3 separate regions of the Homo sapiens genome follow, and regions 1 and 2 are each linked to region 3. The links come from fine-mapping of genetic effects on gene expression. A gene starts in region 3. Each other region holds a variant in brackets. All regions are shown on one strand. Distances are from middle to middle.

Region 1 (10,078 bases), 470 kb before region 3:
TTGCTTTCGGTGATAAGATGCCTTTTAAAGCAAACACTATTCAAAATTTGAGACAGAGTAAAATTATTAAGTCTGGTCTTCCAAATCATGTTCTCTCTATGAAAATATAGAGTCACAGGACTCCTGGCCCTGTGTTTTTATGAGTCATAGGATTTCTATGGTGAAAAATAAAAGATGAATAAACCTAAGATCTGAGAAAAATAAAAAGAACCCCTTCAATACAATGTTATGTCATGACCAGGCTCTCTGTTTTTGATATATGTATGTGTGTGTTTATAAAGAAAATTTTTCAAAAAATTATTTTGTCTCATCTTCAGAGCTTCTTGGGTTTGTAAAAAATTAGATTAGAGGAAGTAGCTGGCAAGTTAGGCATTAGAAACCAAAGCCTGCCAGTGCCAGACCAGGCATGGTGGCTCACACCTGTAATCCCAGCACTTTGGGCGAAGGTGAGAGGATCACTTGAGGCCAGGAGTTTGAGATCAGCCTAGGCAACACAGCATGACCTTGTATCTATAAAATATTAAATGAAAAAATATTTCCAGGTGTGGTGGTGCACGCCTGTAGTGCTAGCTACTGGGGAGGCTGAAGCAGGAGAATTGTTTCAGGAGTTTGAGGCTGCAGTGAGCTATGGCCATGCCACTGCACTCCAGCCTGGTTGACACAACAAAACCCTAGCCCTTAATTAAAAAAAAAACAAAAAAACAAAAAAGCCTGCCAGATGATGCCTATGATTTCAATGAAAATGACAACAGGAGTAACCTTAATGATGCAGAAACAATACAGTCCTGGCTTACCAAGTGCTCTTGTATCCACTTTGCTTTAACAGAGCAAATTTTTATGAATGAATCCAGATGGCTACTCCAGTTGCCTTCCAGCATATGGACAAAGGTGAGAGTGATTTTTTCTGATATGATATTCTGCTTTCTAGTTGGTGACAAATATTTTACCCCTTGAGATGAATTTTAAAATCTTTCCCTTGGCCAGGTGCGGTGGCTCACGCCTGTAATCCTAGCACTTTGGGAGGCCGAGGTGGGCAGATTGACTGAGTTCAGGAGTTTGAGACCAGCCTGGGCAACACGGTGAAACTCCATTTCTACTAAAAAAGAAAAAATTAGCCAGGCGTGGCGGCGTGCACTGATAGTGCCAGCTACTCGGGAGGCTGAAGCAGGAGAATTGCGAGACTCCATTTCCAAAACAAACAAACAAACAAACAAACAAAAAAACCCATTTCCCTTTCTGGATCAGAGCACAAATGATACAATTTTTAAAAAATACCTTGGTTTTCTTTCTTGTCTGTTTGCACAAACCTGCTTTCAACCTCATGATTGTTTCTTCCAATTGAGATCTGATTGGCAAAGCCACAGACTAAGCCACCTAGTCTCCCCCTTTGATACTGTCATGTTTTAGTTAGAGAATATCAAAAAAGAAGGGACCTTAAGATCACTTGGTCCAACCCCTCATTTGTAAGACAATGAAACAGGAGCAGAGAGGTGAAGGGTCCTGTTCAAGGTAACATGGCAAAGTAGTAACAGGTTTGGTTTAGATGTAGCAGAGGGGCTCTTTCTTCTACATTCTTTGGGTTGTGCAGCTTCTTCCTTTTTTTTAACTGTTTATTATATAAATGTTGTTTAAAAGTGGCCATTTTTTCCTTTTCTAACTGAATAATATAAACATGATATGTTAGGCTGATATCACTGGTGGTGGTGGCTGCCTATCACATGCAGTCCCTTCCTTTCTTGGGCAAGGAATGGGGTAAGGAATTATCCATTACTTTCGGTGTCCACAAAAGTAAGAAATGATGGGCGCTTGCTTTTGCAGATTTTGCAGTACCGAGGATAAAGGCATATAACCTGCCAGGAAATCCACTCTAGAGCAAGTGATGCAAAGATACAGGGACAAAGGAGATTTTTGTCCCAGTGCAGGTAGCAGAGACAAGAGTTCCAGAGTCTGAACAGTGCTGGTGACAGCGCTAATGACAGGCAATGTCCGGGGTTGGTAGGGGCAATACCTGGTATTCTGCAGTGCGGCCATAATGTTTCCGGAATTGGTGGGTTCTTGGTCTCACTGACTTCGAGAATAAAGCCGCGGACCCTCGCGGTGAGTGTTACAGCTCTTCAGGTGGCGCATCTGCGTCTGGAGTTTGTTCCTTCTGATGTTCGGATGTGTTCGGAGTTTCTTCCTTCTGGTGGGTTCTGTGGTCTCGCTGGCTCAGGAGTGAAGCTGCAGACCTTCGCGGTGAGTGTCACAGCTCATAAAGGCAGTGCGGCCCCAAAGACTGAGCAGCAGCAAGATTTATTGCAAAGAGTGAAAGAACAAAGCTTCCACAGTGTGGAAGGGGACCCGAGCGGGTTGCCACTGCTGGATGGGGCAACCTGCTTTTATTCTCTTATCTGGCCCCACCCACATCCTGCTGATTGGTAGAGCCCAGTGGTCTGTTTTGACAGGGCGCTGATTTGGTGCGTTTACAATCCCTGAGCTAGACACAAAGGTTCTACACGTCCCCACCAGATTAGCTAGATACAGAGTGTCCACGCAAAGGTTCTCCAAGGCCCCACCAGAGTAGCTAGATGCAGAGTGTCGATTGGTGCATTCACAAACCCTGAGCTAGACACAGGGTGCTGATTGGTGTGTTTACAAACTCTGAGCTAGACACAGAGTGCAGATTGGTGTATTTACAATCCCTGAGCTAGACACAAAGGTTCTCCAAGGCCCCACCAGAGTAGCTAGACACAGAGTGTTGATTGGTGCATTCACAAACCCTGAGCTAGACACAGGGTGCTGATTGGTGTGTTTACAAACCTTGAGCTAGATACAGAGTGCTGATTGGTGTATTTACAATCCCGGAGCTAGACATAAAGGTTCTCCACGTCCCCACCAGACTCAGGAGCCCAGCTGGCTTCACCCAGTGGATCCCGCACCGGAGCTGCAGGTGGAGCTGCCTGCCAGTCCCGCGCCGTGCGCTCGCACTCCTCAGCCCTTGGGTGGTCGATGGGACTGGGCGCCGTGGAGCAGGGGGTGGCACTTGTCTGGGAGGCTCGGGGCCGCACAGGAGCCCATGGAGGGGGTGGGAGGCTCAGGCATGGCGGGCTGCCGGTCCCGAGCCCTGCCCTGCGGGAAGGCAGGTAAGGCCCGGTGAGAAATCGAGCGCAGCGCCGGTGGGCTGGCACTGCCGGGGAACCCAGTACACCCTCCGCAGCCGCTGGCCCGGGTGCTAAGCCCCTCATTGCCCGGGGTCGGCGGGGCCCGCCCGCTGCTCCGGGGGCGGGGCCCGCCAAGCCCACGCCCACCCGGAACTCCAGATGGCCCGCAAGCGCCGCGCGCAGCGCCGGTTCCCGCTCGCGCCTCTCCCTCCACACCTCCCTGCAAGCTGAGGGAGTGGACTCTGGCCTTGGCCAGCCCAGAAAGGGGCTCCCACAGTGCAGCCGTGGGCTGAAGGGCTCCTCAAGTGCCGCCAAAGTGGGAGCCCAGGCAGAGGAGTCGCCGAGAGCGAGCGCGGGCTGTGAGGACTGCCAGCACGCTGTCACCTCTCAATAACGCCCATCCCAACGTTTCCTGAGGAATAATTTTGGTCGTGTTCCTGCTACTCAGCTTTTCGTGGTTCCTGCTCATTTTCAGAGTCTAACATTCCAGCTTTTCCGGAAATTCTGTGAGTATACAACAAACTTTGACAATTCCTTTTGGATTTAACTCATCTGAAGTTAGTTTTGGTTATACTCAGTGAAAAATTTTGGTAGTAGTTACATGGCTCGAATAAAGAAAATAGACTTTGCTTTCTGGGTCTGGGAATAACCAGTGAACATCTTTCTGAGCATCAGTTTCTCATGCATAAAATTTAGGAAAGAAAACCTGAGGGAGGTTAGCTGAATCACTTCTCTGCTTTGCAGAGTCAGATTCTATAAGAAAATGTTATAACATGGAGAAATTTGCCCTTTTCTGTTCTCCTCAAGCCCCCAAAATATTTGTCTTCTGATAAAATGTAAGGAGAAAGAAGAGGCAATAAAAGCAGAAAATGAAAAAAAAAAAAAAAGGCCAAACAAATCTTTATTTTGTTTTGATAGAAGCCCATGAAATATAGCAAGTTGGTTTCAATTTTCTGAAGCTTTGCACAATCAATTAGTTAATCTTAATCACTGCCTATGGAATTCAAACATGCACAATTCCAAATTTTTACACATTCTCATTCATTAAAATAAAGGCAGAAGCCAGGCGTAGGTAGAGTGATATTTTTATGAAGCACAAGCCTTGTAATTTTCCAACATCTGTGGGGAGTTAAAAAACAATCGCTACGATCGCTTCAGTTGCTCTGAAGCTGGTAATATGTGAGTCATGTTTAGGTGCTTTCTGGGCCCTACAAAATCATCAGATAGATTTTCAAATGTGTTTGCAGTAAGAGCCGCACCTCTTTTTTTCTGGGCATGGAAAAACCATGTAAAATAGATCTCAAAGAAGCCAGCATTGTAAGCAACAGGCACATAGTTTATTTTTAGAGACTGGGTTACCATTAGCACATATTTGGACACTTTTTAGTCTGACTCAAATATACAAAAAACACTTTACTAATCATTTATAGAGCAAGTTCGCTGTCTCCACCCTACCCAGAATATAAAATATAAAGATTCTAATAATAGGGGTACACTTAATAAATGTATTGATGGGTGTTTCTCTTTCAACACAATTAATTTGCCCTAAGCAGTGTCTAGTTAATGAGGTCTTAAATTGTCAGAATAAATAGGTGTGCTCTGCTCTAACTTCAACACGAGGCCATGGCAGACATGGCTCTTTTCAGCTACCTAAGTTTACTTTCAACCATTTTCCTACCCATGCAGTGTCCCTTTACTGAGAATTGGTCGTGGACTTCCAGCTGTCTGTTTCCTCCCGAAGAGGCCAGCTATCTTGCTGCACTAATGATTCCTCCTTTGTTGGAAGCTGACTCTATACTAATAAAGAACTGCTGGCAAACAACTGTAATTAAGAAATTTAAGCTTGAGAGAATTAGGATGAGGCAGTGTAATTCCTCGTTATCTTTGAGCATTTTTGGAAGGCATGAGGTACTTTTTGTTTCTGGTTAAAACCGAAGGAAACATTGAATAAATTCCTGCCTTCCACATAATAAAAAAAGGTGTATATTTGGACAGGCTTTATTCTTAGTAGTCACTTCATTTAGATCCTTACTTTTAAAATGTTTCTAATAGGGAAAAAATACTTTCATTCAACTTTTCAAACTAAGAAGTAAGATGGCTGTGTCCCTGAAAGATGGTACATTTATTTAAACTAAAGTTTTACATACATTTAAGTTATACATGACTTGTATCTTATTATTTTCTGAAGGTGGGTTAGGATAAAAAGAAAAGAGGTAAAAGAAAAGAACATTAAGACAAGAGTTTTAAAAAAAAATCTCAGGAGTCTAGTAGGAAGCATGATTCATCCATAAAAAACCATGAGGCAAACAAGTCTTTCAGGAGGGAGCTGTGAGCTGCCTTGAGGCTTATCCACTAGCCACACAGAGGCTGGAGCTGTAACTTTTGTTTTAATGAGGGTTTCTTGGTCAGGCTTAGGTTGACGTCCAAAAAATACATCGGGGAAATCTTGGCAAATAGAAATTCCAGTAGGACTTTTGTTTATGGTCTCTCTTTACTTCTAGTATGTGAATTCCTCGAGGGTAGGGTGTTATTCACTACTAGATCCCTAGCACCTGAAAAGTACCTGGTGCCTGAAAAGGACTGAAAAGGGCAATTATAGGAAGGGAGGGAGAGAGGGAAGGAGGGAACAGAGAAGGAACGGTGTTCCATTGAGACCCCCTGGAGGAAGAAAATCTGGGTTGTGTGGCTTTCAGTAGTTCAATGAGCACATAGCTGTCTTTAAGCCTCCACCTGTGGTGTGTACAGATTCATAACACCCCAACGGCGCATGGTTATGAGATCACCGAAGCCACATCCTCTAGGTTGACAAAGTTTATCCCAACATGCTCACTCTCTCCAAAGCTCTCTCTGACTTTTAATTTACCTGCCACTACTTAATTTCTCCTTCTTGGATTGCTTTGATATTTGTGCATCTCTCATTATGCTGCACTTTGACTTGTATTTGGCTGCTGGTTCTCAACTGAGGTCCTACCTTTATTCCTGAAATTTACCACAGGGCCTGCAACTGGCCTTTAAGCACCAACTCTGCACAAAATCTGTGACTACCTAGGTGTTTCAGGTTGGGCAGCAAACATTTATTCTCAAGTATTCCCCGAGTCTGGTCACTGCTTGACCTTGCCGAGTCCCGTGTTCACAATGTTGTCGAAACCTGTGGGTGAGATTGAGTCTTCAGAGGAAAGAACTAAAGAATTCACGAGGAGCTAGCAACAGCAGAGACTGACTGAAGGGGAAGAGAGTGGAAAGAAAGGATTCATGGAATCTGGGAACACAGAAAAGGGAATGGGAGTGAAAAAGCTCTATATACTTTAAAGTCTGACCCTGAAGTTGTCCCGTTGCGAGTGCTGACTGTACCAGCCTGTAATACATTTAGAGAGATGCACAACTGTGCAAACAAAGCAAATTGCAAACCAGTTTTAGTAATTTCTCAATAAAGGGATTACCCTGTAATTCTCTGTGAACCTCCTATTTTGCAAGCCCAAAGGGAAAACAGTTTTTTCTAGACACATCTATTATGCTTGTCCCTCAGCTAGCAATAAGGGATGCTGCCCTTGCCTTCAAGTCCCTGCTGAGCACCACAACCATGCTCAATATCCTCATCCGTAAAATATGGTCAAAAGAGTGTCTGCCTCACACATTGTAATTGGGATTAAATGAATCAGGTCTAGAGTGTTTAGGAGATTGTCTGGTACATAGTAAGCATCTAAGACGTGTTAGCAATAATATTGACAGTAATGATAAGAGATGACATGATGGTGATTATGATGGTATTAACACATCATTGGCTGTGACTGATTGGACAAGTAACGCTTTTATCCAAAGGCTACCAATCCAGAAGCTGCATGTTGTCTTACAGTTCCTCTGGCTGGTTGCAAAAGATGAGCTAGGCCAGAGTCCTCTCAAAAAACCAACCAACTGTGGCCAAAAAAGTCATAGGCTGGGATGGACATTGTGTGGCATTGTGAAGGTTAAAATTGGGAGGCAAAAAAGTATTTAAAAGAAGAGTGAGTAAAAAAGAAGAGACATTGTAAAAAAAAAAAAAATCACTAAGAAACAGAGACACTTAGTAAGAGAGCCCAGAGTACCCAGCCAGCCCCTGCCTATCTTTTAATTCTGCTAGTCTCACTACCAGTTTCTTAAAGGTCTCCTAGATTCCAACCATAACACTCAACTTTTAGTTTTAAATTCATCTGGGCTTGAGTATTCTTTGTCTCTTGAGCCTAAAGAATCCTGACTAGATTAAAAAATACTTTTTATAGCACAATTAATCATACTACAAAAATGAGTCAGATATCATCTGGCTGCAAGACTTCCTTTCAACTATCGTTTACAAATTTTAAAGCATAGCAATTATTGCAAACACTGATGAACAGATTTAGCTCTGTATGAACATTGGAATTTCCATGGATAGGCATCCTATGCAACTTTATTCTCTAGGCCATTATAAAGAGATTCTTAAATGTCAGTGATAAGAGCCAGTAACTGAAGTAGCAGAGGAAAGTGTCAGGGAGTGCAAACTCAAATGTCTATCGAGAAAATTCATGCATATACTGGGTGTAATACAATAGAGTGTGGTAGGAATTTTGCCAAAATAAAGAGGTCTGCCATCCTGCACTCCTCCCCAAGACAGACATTTCTCTTAAGATCAGTCTTCTCTTGATGGGTGGAAATAAGTTCCCAGTTAAAAAAGCCAAAAATGTAGATTTTTAAAATTGAAAATCTTCTGATTTTTAAATGTTAAAAACTGATTTAATTTTTTCTAATAAAATATCTGACCTCCCAAAAAATGTATCTACAGAACAAACTTTATTTGAGGCTGCCAGTTTCTGCCCTCTGATATAATAGCATGGGAAATAGTCTATGGTAAAGAACCAGATGGTATACAACTTATCATATTTCCTAAATCCACATTCTACTCTGGTTATACTGTAAAAAGACAAGAGAGAGGAGACTTTAAGACTTTTTGTTAGAGGGAAATAAAAAATGCATATCAACATTCGCCC[A/G]AAAGATTCAAAAAAGTCTTAACATTATGATCACAAAATTGTGGATCCTGGTGATTAATAATGCATACATATATTGGGATAAAGTCACGTGGAGTCCTCCAGGACACCTGTATGTCATTTTGCAGTTGTCCTCCCCATCATTTACATTTCATCAACAATATCTAGGAAATCATAATATGTAGGTAATTTTCAAAACTTAAAAAAAAATTTCTAAAAGATTAGGATTAAACCCTTGGCTTTGGAGTTGTATTTAAGCATACTCTTTGATGATGGAAAGAAAGTAGTTTAAGTGATGTACATGTATATTTTAGTAGCCCTGGAATAATGTGTTCTAGGTGTTATTTAAAAAAAAAATTCATGGCTAACCAAATTAATTGAAATAGGATTGACTAGATTTGGTTTGGTTTTGATGAAGCACAAAATGTTCTTTAAAGAGAAACTTCACCGGATACAGGGCACAGCTTTCAAATCATAATCCAGTGACAGTCTTCTTTGTATCTACTGTAATTGTCCTCATTTATTTTCAAAGGACTACTTAGACACCTCTGTGAAATGTCAATCTATTATATTCCATCTTTTGCTCTAAGTTATTCAAATCTAAAGCAAAGTGTTTTTAATGGAGAGATTACCTTCCTTCCACATCCTCTCACTCAAAACTTGTCCATCTAATAAATGCCAGAGACAAAAAGGTGAGAGATTCAGTTACTGCTATTTAAGAACTCTGGATTTAGTATGAAAAAGTGCTTACTACTTCTAGTGTTAGCCCCACCATCTAAAAAACTTAGAAGTCGACCGGACGTGGTGGCTCATGCCTGTAATCCTAGCACTTCGGGAGGCCAAGGTGGGCAGATCCCCTGAGGTCAGGAGTTCAAGACCAGCCTGGCCAACATGGTGAAACCCCATCTCTAATAAAAATACAAAAATTAGTCAGGTGTGGTGGCACACACCTGTAGTCCCAGCTATCAGGAGGCTGAGGCAGGAGAATTGCTTGAACCTGAGAGGTGGCGGTTGCAGTGAGCCGAGATCATGCCACTGTCCTCCAGCCTGGGTGACAGAGCGAGACTCCGTCTCAAAAAAAAGCTTAGAAGTCATCACTCCTATCCTTAAATAACAAAAAGCTGAAGAAACTAAGAATCAACAACTGTTCTTAGATCTATCAAAGAACTAAGGTTTCAGAGCAACCTGCCACTGAAATCTGGACAGGCAGTGATAGGCAAAATAATGGCTGAAGAGAAATCCAAGTCGTAATCCTTGGATTCTATGAATATGCTATATGACAAAGAAAAGAGGAATTAAAGTAGTAGATGGAATTATGGTTGCTAATCAACTGATATTTAAACAGGGAGATTATCCTGCAATATTAGTTGGACCCAATATAATTATAATGGTCTTCAAATTTGGAAGGGGTAGCAGAAGAGAACTATTGTGATACCAGTTTGAAAAGTGCTTGGCCTTATATTAATGCATGGAAAACGCAAGAAAATGAATTCTCCCTTAGAGCATCCAGAAGGAACATAGCCCTGCTGACTAATTGATTTTAGCTTGATGTAAACGATTTCAGACTTCTGACTTCTAGAATTTTAAGATAATATATTTGTGTTGTTTTAAGACACCAAGTTTGTAGTAATTTGCTATAGTGGTCAGTAGAAAAAGAATACATACGTGAATCCAGACAGTCACAGTGGAGCAACTTATCTGGAGCAGAAGCCATTAGCACCATAAGCTGGCAGAAAAACTAAAATATTAATTTTAACAAATTCCTAGAGGTTGAGTATGGATTATTTGAGAGCAAAAAACTCCTAGAGGTCCCAATCTTAGAGAGGCTTCAACAATTTTATGGGTTTTTACCTCTGGGAACCCCTCCAGGTTCTCATGGTAAATATTCATGAAAGTTTCCCTTGTGGCACTAGCAGGGGAAAGAAAAACTAGTCAATGTAA
Region 2 (10,183 bases), 75 kb before region 3:
CTAGGCTTGTGAGGATGTAAAGCAACTGGAATTTTTGTACACTGCTGGTGGGTGTATAAACTAGTAAACACTTTGGAAAACTGCTAACATCCACAAAAGCCAAACAAATACATACCCTCTGACCCAGCAATACCACTGTAGGCATAGAGTCAACAGAAGTACATAGATATATGTGCACCAGAGGTACGAACAAGAATGTTCACATCACTACTATTTATAATAGCTCTAAACTGTCAACTTCTCACAGGCTATCAAAAGTAGAATGGATAACTACACTGTGGTTTAGTTACACACTGCAGTACAACACACTAATGAGAATAAATGATCTGCAAATATACACAATAATATGGATACTCCTCAAAAAAATAATGTTAAGCAAAAGAAGCTGGACACCAGAGTACATACTGTATTACTCCATTCATAAAAAGTACAATGCAGGCAAAATTAATGTATTATCTTAGAAATTCAGGTAAACTTACCCTTGGGTGAGGGTGACCAGAAGAGAATAATATAGATCAGAAGAAATGGTAATGTTCTGTTTTTCGATCTAGTGTTGGCTACACATGTTCAATTTTTGAAAATTAACTGAGCTGTACACTTATGATATATACGCTTTTCTGTGTTTATTTCATACTTCTATTAAAAAATTTAAATTATGTTATTTGGTTGTGATGGGTGAGATTTCTTTATGACAATTAATTGAGGGATAGGCTTCTGATTTGTTCATCGATTTAGAAAGTCTTCTTTCACTTCCCACCACAAAATGACACCACTGACGCCCAGCTAAGGGGATGAAAAACTTATTTAGGTTACTTAGGCTCGGACTAAGGCCAGTTCTGTCAGAAGCCTCTCACTACAAATTCCCTCCCTGCACCTCTTGTTTCTTAGATGAATGGATGGATGAACAGACAGACGAATGACAGACACACACAGAGATGATAGATAGACAGATAGATAGATGATAGATACAGATAGATGATAGATAGATAGATAGATAGATAGATAGATAGATAGATAGATAGATAGATGCTGTTGAAATAATGCTGGGTGAAAGGATTACAGCCTAAGAATAATCATCAAGGATCACTCTTCACTATCTATTGAGAGAACAACCAGCTGGGTGTTGGAGGTGGGGGTGGTCGGATTACAGATTCATATTGATACAATGAGTTTCAAGTGACTATGACACATTTTTTTCTGCATCTCCATTTCTTAACTGTAAAAAGAGGGAAAATATGTACTCTGCTTGCCATCCTGAGTTTGGGAAGAAGATGAATATGTAAACATATTTTAAGCCAAGATGTGTTAAAAGACCCTTAAGTAGAAACAATGCTCCACTCCTCTGGTTTTTCTAAGCACCAGTTTCTTGTTCCGCCCTTAACACTCAAACACTCAGGTGGAGTGAATTCGCCTATTTGATGAATTTAAAAGAAGGAAGAGGGCAGTCATAGCTAGCTCCTCTCTTCCCCTTCCTCTTAAGAGCGGCTATGCGAAAGTTCACGTCTGCATCTGGTCTTCTCTCGGGTTACAGAGCAAGCCTCCACGTGGGAAGCAGAGCGTTTGTCTGGACTGCTGTGACTTGTGACTCTTCTGTAGTCATGTGTAACATGTGGACTCCGCTGGAAAAAAGCAAGGATTAAAGTAAGTCCCTAATTCTAGGGATCTGTATTTGCAGGTCTAGCCTTACCAAAATCTAGGCCCCTTTCCAACAGCAATGAAGCTGATATTTTGATCGCCATCTGCCAGAAATTTTTGTTCCTCTTCCAGTGTTTTTAAAAACACAGGCAAGAAAAAAAGCTGGCTCTTTATCGTGCCTCTTCAAATGCCCACAGAAACTGAAGTATTATTGTTATTGGGATGTGTTTTCGTTTGCTGGAGTAACAGTTCTCACAATGCATGTTTTGTTCTAAAACCTTTTCTTTTTCCCTGAGCCCTTGCTGCCTGTGAAACAATTATAATGGTTTTAAGGGTCCAAGATTTAACTTACATTCTTTATGTGGGGCTTGTAAATTCAACTCAACATTGTTCTGTGACTACTACATGCCAGACACTGCGCTAGACTTGGGGGTTGAAAGAGTAATGTTCTTAAAGCAATATTGTGTCCTGGACATTTTAAATTAAATTTCTTTATGGAAATTCTGCTCGGGGTCTGATGTCAGCAGTGTTAATGGAAAAACAGCATCAAAGTCTTGGTGATTGTGTTTGTTTAAATATTGGAACTAGATACCCTTTTTCTCACTTTTATATTCCAATGAATAATCCGAAGACTTACATTTCTCATTCTACTTAGGCTGTGGTCTTACGTTTCTTCTACTATTACTTGGCTGTGAAGTGAGGTATTTAACCATTTAAACCATTATAATGTCCTTATTTAAGTGAGAGAGAATTAAAAACCAAATGAAACAAGCACAGACCCACAAAAAATCCAGGTCCTTCTCGTTATAAAAAGGGCAACAGCCTTTTTAAGCTTTTAGTTAATAATTAAAGAAATATATTAAGCAATAATGAGTGGGCAATAATGAACTTCTATGGGCTTTGTGTTTCTGGTGTTATGGTGGTCCCAGGAGTGACCCATCACAATTCTAAGAAACCTCTAAGAATATCAAATATGTTTATCAGTGAAGTCGCAGAATGAGACTTTGACTCTGCATCTGACAATTAGTAGGTCCTTCTGAAGACCCTTAACTAAACGTGAAGTTTGGCAACTATTAAGAATCCCACAATTTTGATCTCTGCCAAGTCGTAGACCCAGGAAAAGTGAGGAGTGAGTAATAGTCAGAGGAATCTGAAACTGAGGAAGCAGGAGGGCTCATGAGAGGGATCCTAGCTGCTCTGAGGATTTCAAATCTTTTGGCCTAGCTAAACTACATCTTGGGGAACAGAAAGAACGTATGTCTATAATTACTGAACCACTGTGGGTAATTACTGGGAAACCATGGAAAACAGGAGAGGTTCCAGGAGACTGAAGGATGGAAAATGTTGCTCCAATTTTTAGAAGGGAAAGAAGGTAGGTTTATTGAATTACAGATCAGAGAGCTTGACAAAAATCCTAGAAGAGATTATTATTTTTTTTAAGAGTCCATGAACACTTAGAAGAGGAAACAGTGATGACTAAAGTTAGAATGCCTTTGTCAATAACAGGCCATTACAGACTAACTTCACTGCTTGGTTTTTGACAGTGTGGCTAAACTGGTGTATGAAGAAGGCATAGTATAAACCCTATTTCGGTTAATTAGTCAAGTGCTTCATCATAGCATCATGTACATGATGGGGAAAAATGAACTAGATGGTAGAACAATTGGCTTTGAATGATTTAATGATGTTGTCTCCATCTAAAGAGTGCAGACTTGCCTAGTGACAGGCTATAGTTCTTTCTTCTCGGCCTCAACCTCATCAATATTTCTCTATAATTTTGACAAAAATCAATAGCTTGTTATTCTCTTCAGACTTCAGGGGAAAGTCACAAATCTTTGAGCATCTGTCTACCTTTGAGAGAAAGTAACCCAAGCTGATTCTTTACTACCTATGTTGCTATGACTCAGTGCTATACGTATTGAGTAAATCCTACACTCCTGCTCTAGCCACAACTGATTGGCCAAAGTAACAATGCAAGATCAAAGCAAATACTAATGTGCCCAACTTTAGGGAGGCAAAAAAATTGCCTTTGAGATGGCTTACCCAAAAATTTTTCCCTCACAGTCCCCCCATATTAAATCCTTGCAAATCATCCCAAGCAAATATTGTTATTGGAAAGAATAAATGCTCGAATAAAGAACAAACTTAAATTCTGTAGTTTGGGGATCTCACTCTTATTGGGCCTGCTGTTTTAAAAGCAACAGGACCTAGAATAATAGTTCTTTCAATACCCATCAGCCAAGGTAATTTGCCTGTGTCTTTCTGATATTAAAAGGACTGGTTTATCACCTGCATATCAAATTTAAGAATCAAATTATGCTAGAAGTAGTTCACATAGTTAATGTGATGTATTACAGAATTAAGACTTCAAAATATTGGCCCATATTAAATTAGTGGGCCAAATTGAACAAAATGAACTTTAAGGGGAAAAGTAAAGAGAAAACAAAATCTTTTTTAGCCTCTAGTCAAATCTGGTACTTTAGATTCGGCATTTTTTTGGTGAACATTTTATTGTTAACCTTGGTTAACAGTAACTGAGGTTAAGCTTTACAGTAGAATCAGGACAGATTTACAATGCTAATGAAACTTAAGCTTCAGGATCCCTTCCTTGCATGGACCCTTTTCAAAGCTGTCATGTAGGGCCACAGTGATAAGGTTGCCAAATAAAATACAGGATGCTCAATTAAGTTTGAATTTCAGATAAACAATGAATAACATTTTCACTTAAGTAGGTCCCAAATAACAAATGCAACCTACATTTTTATTTGCTAAATAAACTCTACATGGGAAAGAATCATCAACCTCAGACTGAGGGTCACCCTCTCTGCCCTCGTGGTGGTCTTAGATCCGTAGGTGGAGTTGAGAGGCTGCCAGTCCTACCTTCACATCCACGCAGCCCAAGTGACAACCTTGTCCCAGGGGACCTCTTGAAGTATCCAGACTTTGACTCCAAGGAGAAAGGCACAAATGAGATTTTTTCCCTGCTTCCTGCTCAGAAGTCAATGCTAGACTTCATGGCATTTCACCACCACCTCCCATCCCCTTAATCCCCCTAGGACTAGTAGCCATGGTGGG[A/G]CAGGACACAGTGGCAGCTAGGACCTAGCCAACCTAGAAATTGCAGCTTCCAAAGAATATGAAGACTGAGATCAAGGGGCTGCAAACATATGAAAGTCTGCCCCTGAAAGTAGTGCCATCTCAGCAAGAAGCTGCAGCTGGAGCTCCATGTACAGGATTACAAATAATAAACAGTGAAGTTGAAAGAAACTGCGAAGCCATCAATTTCAAAAATGAGTTTTGCTCTATCATTCTAGAGGAAAGACTTGATTATTTTTCTATTCTCTTTATTGAAAATGTAAGACTTGTGACAGAATGAAGCAACCAAAGAAAATGCAGCCCAAAAAAGTTAATTTAGAGGCATGTAAGCAAATAATTAGAATTGAAAGATTTCCTGACTTGCACTATTTGTAATACCTACCATACTTTATATATATGTAATTTATTGTAAATTCTAATTCTAAATATGAACTTTTATATCTTATTTTAAATAAAATAATTTTAACTTTTATTTTAGATTCAGAGCATACATGTGCAGGTTTGTTACATGAGTATATATAGTGATGGTGGGGTTTAGGGTACGATTGATTCCTTCACCCAGGTAGTGAGAATAGTACCGAATAGTTAGATTTTCAACCTTTTCCCCTTCTAGTAGTCCCAGTGTCTATTTTTGCCATCTTCATGTCCATGAGTATCCAGTGTTTAGTTCCCACTTATAAGTGAGAAGTATATTATTTGGTTTTCTGTTTCTGCATTAATTCGCCTAGGATAATAGCCTCCAGCTGCAGCCATGTTGCTGCAAAGTATGTGATTTTGTTATTTTTTTTCTTTTATTTGGGATTTTTTATTACAGCCAAATATCCTCAAAAATAAGTTTCTGTGGTGGCCCACATTATAATACCTCTACTAGGAATAAAATAAGGGATGATAACTAGATTTAATAGTTATTGTTTTTGCACTGTGTCAGATGTTGTTACCATTTGAGTTACATTTTCTCATTTAGTTCTCTCAAAAACCTTTAGAGATAGTATCATCTTTAATTTTATAGATGAGAAAACTGAAATGTAGATAGCTTTTTTTTTTAATTGCCAAAGATCACACCCATAGAAACTGATAAAGCTGGTATTGGATCCCTTATCAGTCTGACTCCAAAGTTCGTGTATGCTTGTAACTACTGTGACAGAACAGTTGGATGGAACTACATTTTTCATGCATCCAGTGAAGGTGATTCTGTAGTTTCCTCTAGATTCCTATAACCCTGCCCAAACCTTCATACACACACACACACACACACACACACACATACACTTTAAATTCTGGGGTACATGGGCAGAACGTGCAGGTTTGTTACATAGGTACACACATGCCGTGGTGGCTTGCTGTACCCATTGACCCGTCATCTACATTGGGAATCTCTCCTAATGCTACCCCTCCCCCAGCTCCCCACCCCATGACAGGCCCCAGTGTGTGATGACCCCCCTCCCCACCCATGTGTTCTCATTGTTCAACTCCCACTTACGAGTGAGAACAGAAACTTGTTTGGTTTTTTGTTCTTGTGTTAGTTTGCTGAGAATGATGGTTTCCAGCTTCATCCATGTCCCGGAAAAGGACATGAACTCATCATTTTTTATGGCTGCATAGTATTCCATGGTGTATATGTGCTACATTTTCTTTATCTGGTCTATCATTGATGGGCATTTGGGTTGGTTCCAAGTCTTTGCTATTGTGAACAGTGCAGCAATAAACATACATGTGCATGTGTCTTTATAGAAGAATGATTTATAATCCTTTGGGTATATACCCAGTAATGGGATTGCTGGGTCAAATGGTATTTCTAGTTCCAGGTCCTTGAGGAATCACCACACTGTCTTCCACAATGGTTGAACTAATTTACACTCCCACCAACAGTGTAAAAGTGTTTCTATTTCTCCACTTCTCCAGCATCTGTTGTTTCCTGACTTTTTAATGATTGCCATTCTAACTGATGTGAGATGTTATCTCATTGTGGTTTTGACTTGCATTTCTCTAATGACCAGTGATGATGAGATTTTTTTCATATGTTTGTTGACTGCATAAATGTCTTCTTTTGAGAAGTGTCTGTTCATATTATTTACTCACTTTTTGAAAGAGTTGTTGTTGTTGTTTTCTTGTAAATTTGTTTAAGTTCTTTGTAGATTCTGGATATTAGCCCTTTGTCAGATGGATAGATTGCAAAAATCTTCTCCCATTCTGTAGGTCGCCTGTTCACTCTGATGATAGCTTCTTTTGCTGTGAAGTAGCTTATTAGTTTAATTAGATCCCATTTGTCAATTTTGGCTTTTGTTGCCATTGCTTTTGGTGTTTTAGTCATGAAGTCCTTGCCCATGCCTATGTCCTGAATGGTATTGCCTAAGTTTTCTTCTAGGGCTTTTTTGGTTTTAGGTCTTACGTGTAAGTCTTTAATCTATCTTGAGTTAATTTTTGTATAAGGTGTAAGGAAGGGGTCCAGTTTCAGCTTTCTGCGTATGGCTAGACAGTTTTCCCAACACCATTTATGAAATAGGGAATCCTTTCCCCATTGCTTGTTTTTATCAGGTTTGTCAAAGATCAGATGGTTGTAGATGTGTGGCGTTATTTCTGAGGCCTCTGTTGTGTTCCATTGGTCTATATATCTGTTTTGGTACCAGTACCATGCTGTTTTGGTTACTGTAGCCTTGTAGCATAGTTTGAAGTCAGAGTGATGCCTCCAGCTTTCTTTTAGCTTAGATTGTCTTGGCTATGTGGGCTCTTTTTTTGGTTCCATATGAAATTTAAAGTAGTTTTTTCCAATTCTGTGAAGAAACTCAGTGGTAGCTTGATGGGGATAGCACTGAATCTATAAATTACTTTGGCCTGTATGGCCATTTTCACGATTTTGATTCTTCCTATCCATGAGCATGGAATGTTTTCCCATTTGTTTGTGTTCTCTCTTATTTCCTTGAGCAGTGGTTGGCAGTTCTTGAAGAGGTCCTTCACATCCCTTGTAAGTTTTATTCCTAGGTATTTTATTCTCTTAGTAGCAGTTGTGAATGGGAGTTCATTTATGATTTGGCTCTGTTTGTCTGCTATTGGTGTATAGGAATGCTTATGATTTTTGCACATTGATTTTTGTATCCTGAGACTTTTCTTATCAGCTTAAGGAGATTTTGGACTGAGATGATGGGGTTTTCTAAATATACAATCATGTCATCTGCAAATAGAGACAATTTGACTTCCTCTTTTCCTAATTGAATACCCTTTATTTCTTCCTCTTGCCAATTGCCCTGACCAGAACTTTCAATACTATGTTGAATAGGAGTGTGAGAGAGGGCATCCTTGCCTTGTGCCGGTTTTCAAAGGGAATGCTTCCAGTTTTTGCCCATTCAGTATGATATTGGCTGTTGGTTTGTCATAAATAGCTCTTATTTTGAGATACATTCCATCAATGCCTAGTTTACTGAGAGTTTTTAGCATGAAGCGCTGTTGAGTGTTGTCGAAGGCCTTTTCTGCATCTATTGAGATAATCATGTGGTTTTTATCATTGGTTCTGCTTATGCGATGGATTATGTTTATTAATTTGGGTATGTTGAACTAGCCTTGCATCCCAGGGGTGAAGCTGACTTAATCTTGGTGGATAAGCTTTTTGATGTACTGCTGGATTCGGTTTGCCAGTATTTTATTGAGGATTTTTACATCAATCTTCATCAGGGATACTGGCCTGAAATTTTCTTTTTTTGTTGTGTGTCTGCCAGGTTTTGGTATCAGGATGATGCTGGCCTCATAAAATGAATTAGGATTCCCTCCTTTTCTATGGTTAGGAACAATTTCAGAAGGAATGGTACCAGCTCCTCTTGGTTACTCTGGTAGAATTCGGCTGTGAATCCGTCTGGCCTTGGACTTTTTTGTGGTGTTTGTAGGCTATTAATTACTGCCTCAATTTCAGAACTTGTTATTGGTCTGTTCCAGGATTTGACTTCTTCCTGGTTTAGTCTTGGGAGGGTGTATGTGTCCAGGAATTTGTTCTTTTCTTCTAGATTTTCTGGTTTCTTTGCATAGAGGTGTTTATAGTATTCTTTGATGGTAGTTTGTATTTCTGTGGGATCAGTGGTGATATCCCCTTTATCATTTTTTATTGCATTTATTTGATTCTTCTCTCTTGTCTTCATTAGTCTTGCTAGCGGTCTATTTTGTTGATCTTTTAAAAAAAACCAGCTCCTGGGTTCATTGATATTTTGAAGGGTTTTTCAGGTCTCTATCTCCTTCAGTTCTGCTCTGATCTTAGTTATTTCTTGTCTTCTGCTAGCTTTTGAATTTGTTTGGTCTTGCTTGTCTAGTTCTTTTCATTGTGATGTTAGGGTGTCAATTTTAGAACTTTCCTGCTTTCTCTTGTGGACATTTAGTGCCATAAATTTCTCTCTACACGCTGCTTTAGATGTGTCCCAGAGTTTCTGGTATGTTGTGTCTTTGTTCTCATTGGTTTCAAAAAACTTACTTATTTCTGTCTTCATTTCATTATTTACCAGTAGTCATTCAGGAACAGGTTGTTCAGTTCCCATGTAGTTGTGCCATTTTGAGTGAGTTTCTTAATCCTGAGTTCTAATTTGATCACACTGTGGTCTGAGAGACTGTTTGTTATGATTTCCATTTTTTTCATTTGCTGAGGAGTGTTTTACTTCCAATTATGTGTTCAGTTTTAGAATAAGGGTGATGTGGTGCTGAGAAGAATGTATGTTCTGTTCATTTTGGGTGGAGAGTTCTGTAGATGTCTATTAGGTCTGCTTGGTCCAGAGGTGAGTTCAAGTCCTGGATATCCTTGTTAACTTTCTGTCTCATTGATCTAATATTGACAGTGGGGTGTTAAAGTCTCCCACTGTTATTGTGTGGGAGTCTAAGTCTCTTTTTAGGTCTCTCAGAACTTGCTTTATGAATCTGGGTGCTCCTGTATTTGATGCATATATATTTAGGATAGTTAGTTCTTCTTGCTGGATTGATCCCTTTACCATTATGTAATGCCCTTCTTTGTCTCTTTCAATTTTTATTGTTTTAAAGTCTGTTTTATCAGATACTAGGATTGCAACCCCTGCCTTTTTTTGCTTCCCATTTGCTTGGTAAATATTCTTCCATTTCTTTATTTTGAGCCTATGTGTGTCTTTGCATGTGAGATGGGTTTCCTGAATACAGCATGCAGACCAGTCTGTGTCTTTTAACTGGGGCATTTAGCCCATTTACATTTAAGATTAATATTGTTATATGTGAATTGGATCCCGTCATTATGATGCTAGCTGGTTATTTTGCCCGTTAGTTGATGCCGTTTCTTCATAGCATCGATGGTCTTTACAATTTGGTATGTTTTTGAAGTGGCTAGTACTGGTTGTTCCTTTCCATGTTGAGTGCTTCCCTCAGGAGCTCTTGTAAGGCAGGCCTGGTGGGGACAAAATCTCTCAGCATTTGCTTGTCTGTAAAGGACTTTATTTCTCCTTCGCTTATGAAGCTTAGT
Region 3 (10,183 bases):
AAATCAGAAGTGAGGTACAGAAACAGCTGGATTGGTTACAGGTTGGCATTTGCCTTATTTGAACACAGTTTGACACTCAGCAGTGCATGAGTGGTTGAAGTATGACTGCTAGGATTGGCCAAGACTCAGCAATTGTTACAGGTGCATATTCCTAAGTTAGGTTTTCAATCTTGTCTACCGATTAAATTAGATTACAGTTCATCCACAAGGACTCAAATATAGAAGTACAACGTCCCTCTCAGGCCATATTTAGTTTGCTGTAACAGCACCATTGGTATCCTCTGGATAGTATGACAGATGTCATAAGAAATTAAATCCTCCAAAAGACAGATGATACTGAGCTTCCTGGAGAAATCAGAAAAATGTGCCTCATTTGCCATTTCCCATTTGAGAAAATACAAGCTGCCGTATTCACTAATATGTTATATAGTAAAGTAATAATAATGTCTTTTCATTAAAAAGAAGAAGAAACTAGAAGAGTTCTCAAATCTCTTAGGTGCATCTCCTACCCAGGCTTAAGAAATCATGGTGAGTTCTGCAAACCTCAACCAATGGCTTTTGATACAATACTTATCATAAAAGCAACACAGAGCATTTACAGCGACCAGAGTACAAAACTAAAGTCAGCAGAGCTGCTCTTCAGGCACCTATTTCTAAACTCTTGACAACAACAATGGTCATTCTTGTGCTCCTTCTGCCTTAGTCTTCTCTCAGGTTTGCATCTATATCAGGTTTCTAACTTTTATCTACTTCAGCCCTGGCTTTCCTAGGATCCTTGGATGTCACTAACAAAAATGTGAGATTCATCCATCCTCTCTTTTATTCCCTAAGTAAAATCTTAACTCTTGTTCCTCCAGATCTAAAATCTTTATTTATTCTCACAACCACCACTTTAATTCATTGTCTTAAGGCTGGACTATTATAATTGCCTCCTAGGTAGTTTTTCTATTTCCTATAATCCAGAGTCCATGGACTTATAAGAGGACCATGCATTTGCTTCAAATTTTTCTCCACATCTTCCAAAACTGTACCCATACATGGTGTTCTGAAAGCTCTGAAAGGTTAGAGATCTGGAATACTATATATAAAGTCTTCAAGTCATGTAGTTTGACTTTAGTTGGTTGAGTTGCAACTGTATTGGAAGAAAGATGATACTGATTTTCTTTCTACCTCCTTTTCCTGCATTATGTCTCTTCATGGCACTTATCACTTACCGTGCTAGTCTGTAACTTCAAAAAAGGAAGGGCTAAGATGTCAGTCTACTTCACTGCTATTGGAATCACTCAGTGGAGGTCTTGACTGTTTGGTTAATTGAATAATATGAAAATTGTGGAGCTGGGAGGTGGTAATGATTGTGCCTGATTAAAAGATATGTAACAATTTTGGCATTTGGTTATCTGTTGACACATATATAAGTCAGTTTTAAAATTCATAGCTTGTTCTGATTGTCAGGTGATCTATGACTTGTAACTGCTTGCGCTTGGTTGATTGGTGTTAAATAAATACTCTGATTAGGAGGGTGATGTAAAGGATGGTATGGATGATAAATTAAGGATGAGGAGTAAGAAGTAGTAATTACTAGAAAAGACAGCAAATAATGTCAAAGACCTAGAGATGAGGGGAAATGTAATTCTCAGGGGTGATATAAAAGGTGAAGAAGATGTATATTTATTGTCGTGTTTACTAGAAAAAATACAAAGCCTGAGAATTTACCAACAATACTGTTTAAGAAAAGAGTAACAAAAAGAGGGGGAGGATTTAAAGAAAATCATTAGGTAAAACTATAGTGAGAGGTAATTAAAATGTCAAACCATCCTTAAAGCGTAGGTAAATTACCGTAGTCCAGGAAACACAGGTTTAGGAGTTCAGATTGACAATTAACTCAGAGTCGCTATGCTCAGCTCTGAGATCTTGGCAAATTATACACTCAATTAACTTCTGCAAAATAAAGTTACAATTACAAAATAAAGTCATTATCATTGAATTTCATATATTTCTTATTAAATGAGGCCATGTTCAAAGGTGAAAGTGATTTGTAAACCATATGAATCTATAGAAACATATTGCATTATTAAGCATGGTTAGAAAAAAGAGTGGTGAAACTTTTCTTTGATATGCTGTGGACTCTCCAAATTTTATAAATAGAAGCAGGAAGAAGATAGAAAATATAAGGCTTTTTTTGTATTTTTGTAGAGACGGGGTTTCACCATGTTGACCAGGCTGGTCTCAAATTCCTGACCTCAGGTGATCCTCCCGCCTTGGCCTCCCAAAATGCTGGGATTACAGGTGTGAGCCACTGCGCCCAGCCATGGTGGCATGTGCCTGTAATCCCAGCTACTCAGGAGGCTGAGGCAGGAGAATTGCTTGAACCCAGAAAGTGGAGGTTGTGGTGAGCCGAGATTGCGCCATTGCACTCCAGCCTGGGCAACAAGAGCAAAACTCCGTCTCAGAAAAAAAAAAAAAAAAAAAAAAAAAAAAAAAAAAAAAACCAGAAAATGTAAGGCTTAAAAGCATTGGTTTTACAATTTTAAAATTAATTCAGTATTGTATTTTGGCTCTGAATCATTTAGCATTCTTTATCCTCAGCAATCTCATCTGAAAAACTGGTATAATTTTAGCACTTACTCATCAGAATATTTCTGAGAATTAAGCAATACATATAAAGGCTTTGACACATATATACTCTAACTATAAAAGTAATTACAAATATTAGAATTGTTATTAAGTGGAGCAAATGGAACTAGAATTGGTGCCAATATGACTCAGGTTTCTAATAATTCTGGAAGATGACATGAAAAGTAGAAAATACGTCAGAGAAGAGCTCTGACATAAAGCAATTGTAGAGATTTATCTCATAAAAATTCTTAAGAGAAGCAAACATTCCTATCAGGAGTTCACTTTGAAATTGATAGCAAGAAAATGACCCCAGGTAACAAGCCTAGGAAAATAAGTTTAACATGTTGCTGTCATCTTTCTGTGGTTCATCCTAGTTGAGGTCTGGAAGTCCAGACCTGGGTTAGAAATTGACTAAAGAATACGAAGCCATGAGGTTGGTCACCAAGGAGCTTTGGGAGAAAGATAAACTGTGGCTGCCAAAACCCGACAAATATGCCACATTTCCAAAGCAAGCATCCAAGTTTGGACATCACGTGAATTTTTAATTTAAAAGAATCTTGTCAGCTCTGCAGAGCTAAAGACCATGTTCATATACATGCTTCTAGGGTTACTTCTAACTCTGAGTCTCTGATTCTATAATTCTACTTTGGTAACTGACTTATTACTAACCATAAATCACATGAATGCTCGGCATGGGATATGGCACATTATCCATGTTTAGCTAAGTGAGGCAGCCACAACTTTATGGTTAAACGTTCAGACCATAGGGCAAGACTGCCTGAGTTTGAATTAACGGCTTTTCTACTCACAAGCCACATGGCCTGGAGTTCTGTCACTTTCCTTCATGTACCTTACTTGTAAAATGGGAATAACATAAATACTTTCCTTTTAGGCTTTTTGGTGCTATGGTGAGGCTGAAATGAGTTGGTATTTGTAAAACATTTTTCAGAAGTTATTTCACTAAACCAGCAATTCTCACATTGTAGCTGCATCAGAATCATATGGAAGGCTTGTTAACACATGGACTCCTAAGCCTCCTTCGTACAGTTTCTGAATCAGTGGGTCTGGGATGGATCCCGCAAATTTTTGATCTTAACGAAGTCCAAAGTAATGCTGATGCTGGACCCGTGACCCTATCTTGAGATCCACTGCCCTAAAACATTCATTGCAAATTGTCATCAAAAGCTTAAGTGCTATGTAACTACGTGGAAGGAAACAAGGTCATTTTAGTTATGTTAACTCAGTGTTTATGAGTATTGGGAGCCCCACCAAGAATTGCAGGAGATATTACATGTGGGCAAGTTGGTAGAGGTGATTCTGGAGGCATCTCTGCCTCCAGATGGTAGGGTTGGAGATGAGAAAGGAGAATGTAATCCAAGCAGAAATAGTAGTATTTAAATCCGGTTCTGTGATAATGATTTAAAAGAATTCCTCTGAGACATCTATATACGATGTAATATTGTTTGGCAGTTAAAAAACAAAAGGGAAATATTGCCATTTGTCACACATGGATGAACCTGGAGGACATTATGCCAAGTGAAATAAGCCAGAAACCAAAAGAAAAATAGTGTATGATCTCACTTATATATGTGAAATCTTTTTCTAAAAGGTCGATTATACAGAGATAGAGAATTAAATAGTGGTTATAGGGGTTGGAGAAAGGAAATGGAAAAATGTAGATCAGAGAATACACAGTAGCATACATTTATATAGATCTAATGTGCAAGAGGACTATAGTTAATAAAATTGTATGGTATTTGGGATTCTTGCTAAAAGAGTAGATTTTAGCTGCTCGTGTCACAAAAACAAAAATGGGGTAACTATGTGAGATGATGGATATGTTGTTTCACTATAGTAACCATTTTACTATCTGTATATAGCCCATAACATGTTGTATACCTTAAATATACGCAATATAATTTACTTATTTTTAAAAGAGGGGTTTAAATAAAACATTGACACTGCAGGTATCACAGGTCATTAACGCTAACTTAGCCTTCAAATAGAACTTTGGGAGCCACAGGACCAAGGACAGCCTGCGGCGATTTACGTAAACCCTTAAACCAAAAGGCCCACCTGTCAACAGGTGGAAGAGGTCAAGGAGGAAATGAACGGGCGGCCACTGAAACTGCTCTGCCACCCAGCCAGGACCTGCCAACTTGCTAGGAGAAAGCCCTGGGAATTTAAAGAGTGAAGCCACGGCGAATTAGCTTCCCACACGCTCGTAAACATAAAGAGGGGCCCGGTGGTCGTTTCTCATCCTTGTGCTGCTGAGCCCCGGCCGCGTCCCCAGACACAGAAGTCGGGCTCATCCCCCGCCCTCGCTCCGCCTTCCTTCCTTCCCTCCCAGAGCTCCGGACCAGCTCCGCACGACCCCAGCAGCTGAGCCCGGGACCGAGCCCGGGACCTAGCCCGGGCAGCTCGAGCCCATTGGTCACCAGGGCAAACAGGTGAGCGCCTCGGCCAATCCTTCCCCGGAAAGGGCTGGAACCCCACGCCGGCTGGGGCTTGGCGTGGGAATGGAGCGAGTACCGTGGCTGCAGAAGCGGGCGCTGGGGCGGGGAGGGCTGAGGGTGGGGGAGGGAAGACGCACCCGGAGAAGGTGGGGGCATGAAAGCACACGACAATTCTTCGGTGACTGGTGCCAGGCAAAAAAAAAAAACACACACTGAGGAAAGACAATCAATAGATGGAGACATCTGTGACAGATTTGTCCAAAAAAGACAATTTGAGGAGAAGCTCTTGGGACTTTGGAGCAAAATGGAGTGATTAGTAGTAGTTAATATTCAAGTGATAACTTTAAGGAGTATTAAGTACACTACTGAGGGAGGAGAAAGGAAATTTAAAAACCTCCACTTAGCCTTTTGTTTCTGCAACAGCAAGCATCATAATAAAAGAACGCTTCTGGGTTAATGTGGTTATGAGTTATAGAACTTTGAAGCTGTGGAAGCGGCTCCAGGTCTCCCTGAAGAGCATTACTCCTGGCTGTAAGCCAAAAAGAATAAGGCTTTTTGCTCACTTTGGAGCAGAGAACTTTTCCTCCCTCAGGTTTGGACACAATTTTCCATTTCCTGGGAAGATTTTCTGTCTCTGCCTATGTCACAAGAGGACTCAGGACCTGAAAGAAGAGCTCAGGTATTGCCAATTCCTATTTCATTATGTACATTTTCAGCCTTACGTTTGTGAGAATCCCTTATTCATGTGTTGTCTTATGCTATTGATCCTCTTTTAAATAATTTGAACGTGGGCATACCCAGAACTTTTATTTAAGCTGAACGAGAGAATTACCTTCATCCTGCTGTTCCTTCCTTTGTTTATCTAATGATAAGGTGGAAATGCTGTCTCCAATCATACAAAGCTTATTTAAAATTATTGTAACCAGGTGGTTACGATGGCAAAAGTGGTCATATGATTAATCCTATCTTAAATTTTAATTTGGACTAAATTATAATAATACATCCATCATCTTTTTATCTGTATGAAAATCCAAGCAGTTCAGCCCCAGTGTTATTTCTCAGTGTAGTTTGTAGCTAAAGGGTGGTTGCTGGTGGAATCCAACATCATGCTGTTCCACAGAACGGTGGGATTTATTACAAATTATGAAGGTCATTTTGCTTGGAAAAGCACAATAAAGAGTTTATTTCAATCCTGCATTTCAGGAGAGAATTAGGTTTGAATTCCTGGGCTTGCCCCACATATGGGTAACAGATACCATTTTTTTTTTTCTGACAAGCTGAGCATATTTCTTCCCTGGTTATGCTCCCCACCTCCTGTGGCAGCCATGAGCTGGAGGAGGGACCAAGGAAAAAGGCAGAGAGATGTCCGAAGCTGAGCAAAAGCAGACAGCATCATGCCTGCACAGGGTCAGCATGGCTCAAGCCCTCTCAGCTGGTCAGTCGCTGTTGCTTATGGTCATTACTTGGCAGTGAAGTGTTCAATGTGTCTTTTTTTTTGGCAGGGACTTGAAAACCGGTTAGAAAGAGATTTATTCTCCCTTCCAGTGGATTATTACAACCTTTAAAAAATGTTTCTGAAGAAGGTTTAATAAAATGAAAAAACATTATATATGAAATGATAAAATGTGTTACAAAATTGAGTTTGATCACATGTACACATATACACGTAAATGTATGTACACCTATACATATACACACAATAGATGAAAAAGGCTGGAAAGGAATACAACAACATGTTTAAGGATTATATAAGTGGTGAGATTGAGTAATTTTTTTCCTTTTTACTGCTTAATTACAGTTTCCAAATGTTTTATTATGCACAGATATTACTGTTATAATCAGTTTCTTGAAAGTTACTCTAAAAGAATTAATGTATATAAAGGAAACTAAATTCTATATATTTTAGTTGTCACAATCTTTCTTATGGTTTCCAGTTTCCCTTTTAATGAATGCCTGAGTAATAGGGATTGCTGGTTTTCATAAAGAAGTGAGAAGCTGTGAAGAAATTTTCACAACAGTAAATATCCCACTTGATCATAAAGCGCAGTGTGAGGCCAGCAGCACACACTATAGTTTTGTAAAGAGTGCATATGACCACAAAGGGTAGGAATGGAATTGACCACTTACGACCCTTAAAGAAGGTCTCCCAGATTCCCAGAGTGAGTGTGTGGTGGTCCTGGGACTTTGCTCCACCACTCTTTATAACTCTGAGGTATGATGTTTTTTCAGGATGAAGGTAAAAGGCAGAGGAATCACCTGCTTGCTGGTCTCCTTTGCTGTGATCTGCCTGGTCGCCACCCCTGGGGGCAAGGCCTGTCCTCGCCGCTGTGCCTGTTATATGCCTACGGAGGTACACTGCACATTTCGGTACCTGACTTCCATCCCAGACAGCATCCCGCCCAATGTGGAACGCATCAATTTAGGGTGTGTGAGACCTCATGTTTCCTCTTCTCAAAGAGGGATCAGTCGCAGCAGTGACTTGTCCCTCAAACATCTATGACTTTGGGAGATGAATCTCAATTGTTTTAACAATATTTCTTTTCTGAAATGAGCTCATGAGAATTTTGTTTGTTGGGGGCAATAAGAAAACTTTTCCTGGTAAACTTTTATTAGGAGAAAGTTCTTCTAGAATTTGAAGTCCCTCTTGGTAGGTTGGGAGACTCATGACGGTAAAAAGCTTCTTTCTGGCTACATTTTTGCTGGAAAATGATATAGTTTCTGTTAACTATTGGGGTTATGATCATTCATCATAAGAGATGACAGGGTAACTGGAAGTGTCTGCCTATATAATACACACACACACACACATACATACATATATATATATATGTATCCTTTTTATAGGCCCTTTGGTTTCTTTCCATACAAACTTATTTAAAATGGATGCCTAATTAAATTTTTAAAAATATGACTGTATTTTAAACGTTCATGAAAAAAAAGTCTGTGTGTGTCTGAATACACATGTTGGACTTAGCATCGTTTATTTGACATTAGTGAGCATGTACTATGCACTGGGGATACAATGGTAAGATATACTATTCACTTCTAGGATGTGTATTGATCGTTAAAAAGACCAGACAAATGTACGGTCAGTACAATTAATAAAAACTAATAGAGCATACAAAGTGTTTTAGAGACAGTCACTAATATTAAGAGCTAACATTAAGGTTGTGCTCAGTAGGTGCTGGCATTGGGTTAAGCACTGCATCCATTTAATCCTCATAACCCCTTTGGAGTGAGTTCTATTATTTACATTTTATAGATGAGGAAACTGAGGCACAGAAAGCCTGCTGATTTTACCCAGGGTTGTACCACTACTCTGTTGAGCCTGAGCTCGTAATCATACCCAAACGAGACGCCCAAGCCTGGCCTCCAGAGCCCAGGCTTCTTAACCACTGCTGACGAATTCCACCTGGGGGAGTGGTGAGGAGATAGTGTCATGAAAGAATGGGCTAGATATTAAGTGTTCACAAATAGAAAAAGGTGAGGTCAAGGGCATTCCAACCTGAGGGAACAGCATATATATAAAAGTTTGAAAATGATAAGAAATGTGACAAGTTCCCAGAATATGAGGGGGGTGATTGTAACTGAAATGGCAAGAACTGGGTAGAGAGCCGACCTTCTGTGGCATCTGGTGAATTTCAGTTTTTGAAGCATTTGATTGTCTCAATAGAGTACAGTTATAAAGAGAGGTATTGAGTTTTCTTGTGTTTATTTTGGTTATGACATTTGAACTTTAGTTGACAGACTTAGCTTATGCCTAGAATGTCATTTTTTATTTCAGATACAACAGCTTGGTTAGATTGATGGAAACAGATTTTTCTGGCCTGACCAAACTGGAGTTACTCATGCTTCACAGCAATGGCATTCACACAATCCCTGACAAGACCTTCTCAGATTTGCAGGCCTTGCAGGTGAGACTGATGGAGAGAGGGGGCAGGTTAAAGAGGTAAGGTGGGACCTGTGAGATAGACCTTCAAAGGCTGCCTATCTCTACACAATACGAAAATCAACATTCTGTAAATTAGAAGCAGACGTCAATGGAGAATGTTAACTGATTTTTAACTGTGGAACTGTGTGTATAAATTAGAATAATAAGAACTCTGAGGCAAGTTTTCTACTACCTCAAGCTAATAGAAAAAAAATCAATACCCAGAGACGATAAACCTTCAAAATTTAATCCTAAAAGGACACTTCTAGTCATGTTTATCTGGGAATTGAATGTGGTTCCTAAAAGTAATGACTATCTTAGACAGATAATAGTTTTATATAAATCAATGTACTATTTTCAGTTTCATTTTATTTACTTATTCATGTTCTACATTGTTCAATTTTTTAAAGTTAAGAGGACTCCCAAGAATGCATAAAATCATGCAAGAATGATCACAAAAGTAAGTGAGAAAGTAAAAGGTAAAATAAGCCTAGAGAAAAGAATAAAGGGAACATGAGGAAATGCATACATAGAGACCTTTAAGTCTGCTATAAGTAGGACTTGAAGCTTTCAAGACGCTAACAATACATGACATCTATTAAAACTTAAACTGTTCAGGAAAAGCACAGCCATGTATGATTTTTAAATCAGAAAGAAATGTCTTACAAAGCTCCTCATAAAATACAGTGCCATAAAATAAAGTCAATAATATCCTTGTAAAAGATGAAGTACCTGTGTTCATAGAGCCTTCTAACATATACCAGAGCTATGTAAGGGAGGTTATAACCATGGTGAGAGCAATAGAGTATAATGTAGCTATGTGATTCTGTTGATTTGGTTAATCAGGCTCTATTTGGAATGTATGTCTTCGGAGGAATAGATGGATTGCATGTCCTTTATAGAATTCTCTACATATATTTATTCTCTCGACCAAATTTTCAATGGCTGTTGAGGAACATTGAGTTGGAGATTGAACTCCCAGGTTACATTTGGGGCAAAGCTCTTCTATGTTGCCAACTTATATTTTCTTTTCTTATTAGGGGTCTTGGCATTCTAGAGAAGCATTCTCGACAGAGATGATAGTTCAGGCCAAGTCAGGAAAATATGATGAGAAATGGTGTTTACTAGCATTTCTTTTTTCTTTATGGGAGAGAGTATGTTCAACTGGTAATTGGAGAGG

The links. PIP is the estimated chance that this variant, and not a neighbour inherited with it, causes the effect. A credible set is the group of variants that fine-mapping cannot tell apart.
Region 1: its variant is the best candidate, but not a certain one, in a credible set for the expression of IGSF10 in fibroblasts (GTEx, PIP 0.75).
Region 2: its variant is the best candidate, but not a certain one, in a credible set for the expression of IGSF10 in blood mononuclear cells (TOPMed, PIP 0.73).

The regions. Positions count from the first base shown.
Region 1 is chr3:151,921,425-151,931,502 of GRCh38, reverse strand. AADACL2-AS1 (AADACL2 antisense RNA 1) reads left to right here and starts at 3,328. Exons shown (of 3, transcript NR_110203.1): 1 at 3,328-3,646. LOC107986047 (a long non-coding RNA gene) reads left to right here. Exons shown (of 3, transcript XR_001740567.1): 3 at 827-951. The variant A/G (reference allele first, on the strand shown) is at 8,141.
Region 2 is chr3:151,530,611-151,540,793 of GRCh38, reverse strand. It overlaps a transcript of IGSF10 not described here. Among named protein-coding and RNA genes, the nearest start is that of LINC02066, 16 kb to the left of the region's middle. The variant A/G (reference allele first, on the strand shown) is at 4,711.
Region 3 is chr3:151,455,829-151,466,011 of GRCh38, reverse strand. IGSF10 (immunoglobulin superfamily member 10) reads left to right here and starts at 4,951. Exons shown (of 8, transcript NM_178822.5): 1 at 4,951-5,066; 2 at 5,665-5,751; 3 at 7,302-7,496; 4 at 8,857-8,986. The coding sequence starts at 7,303.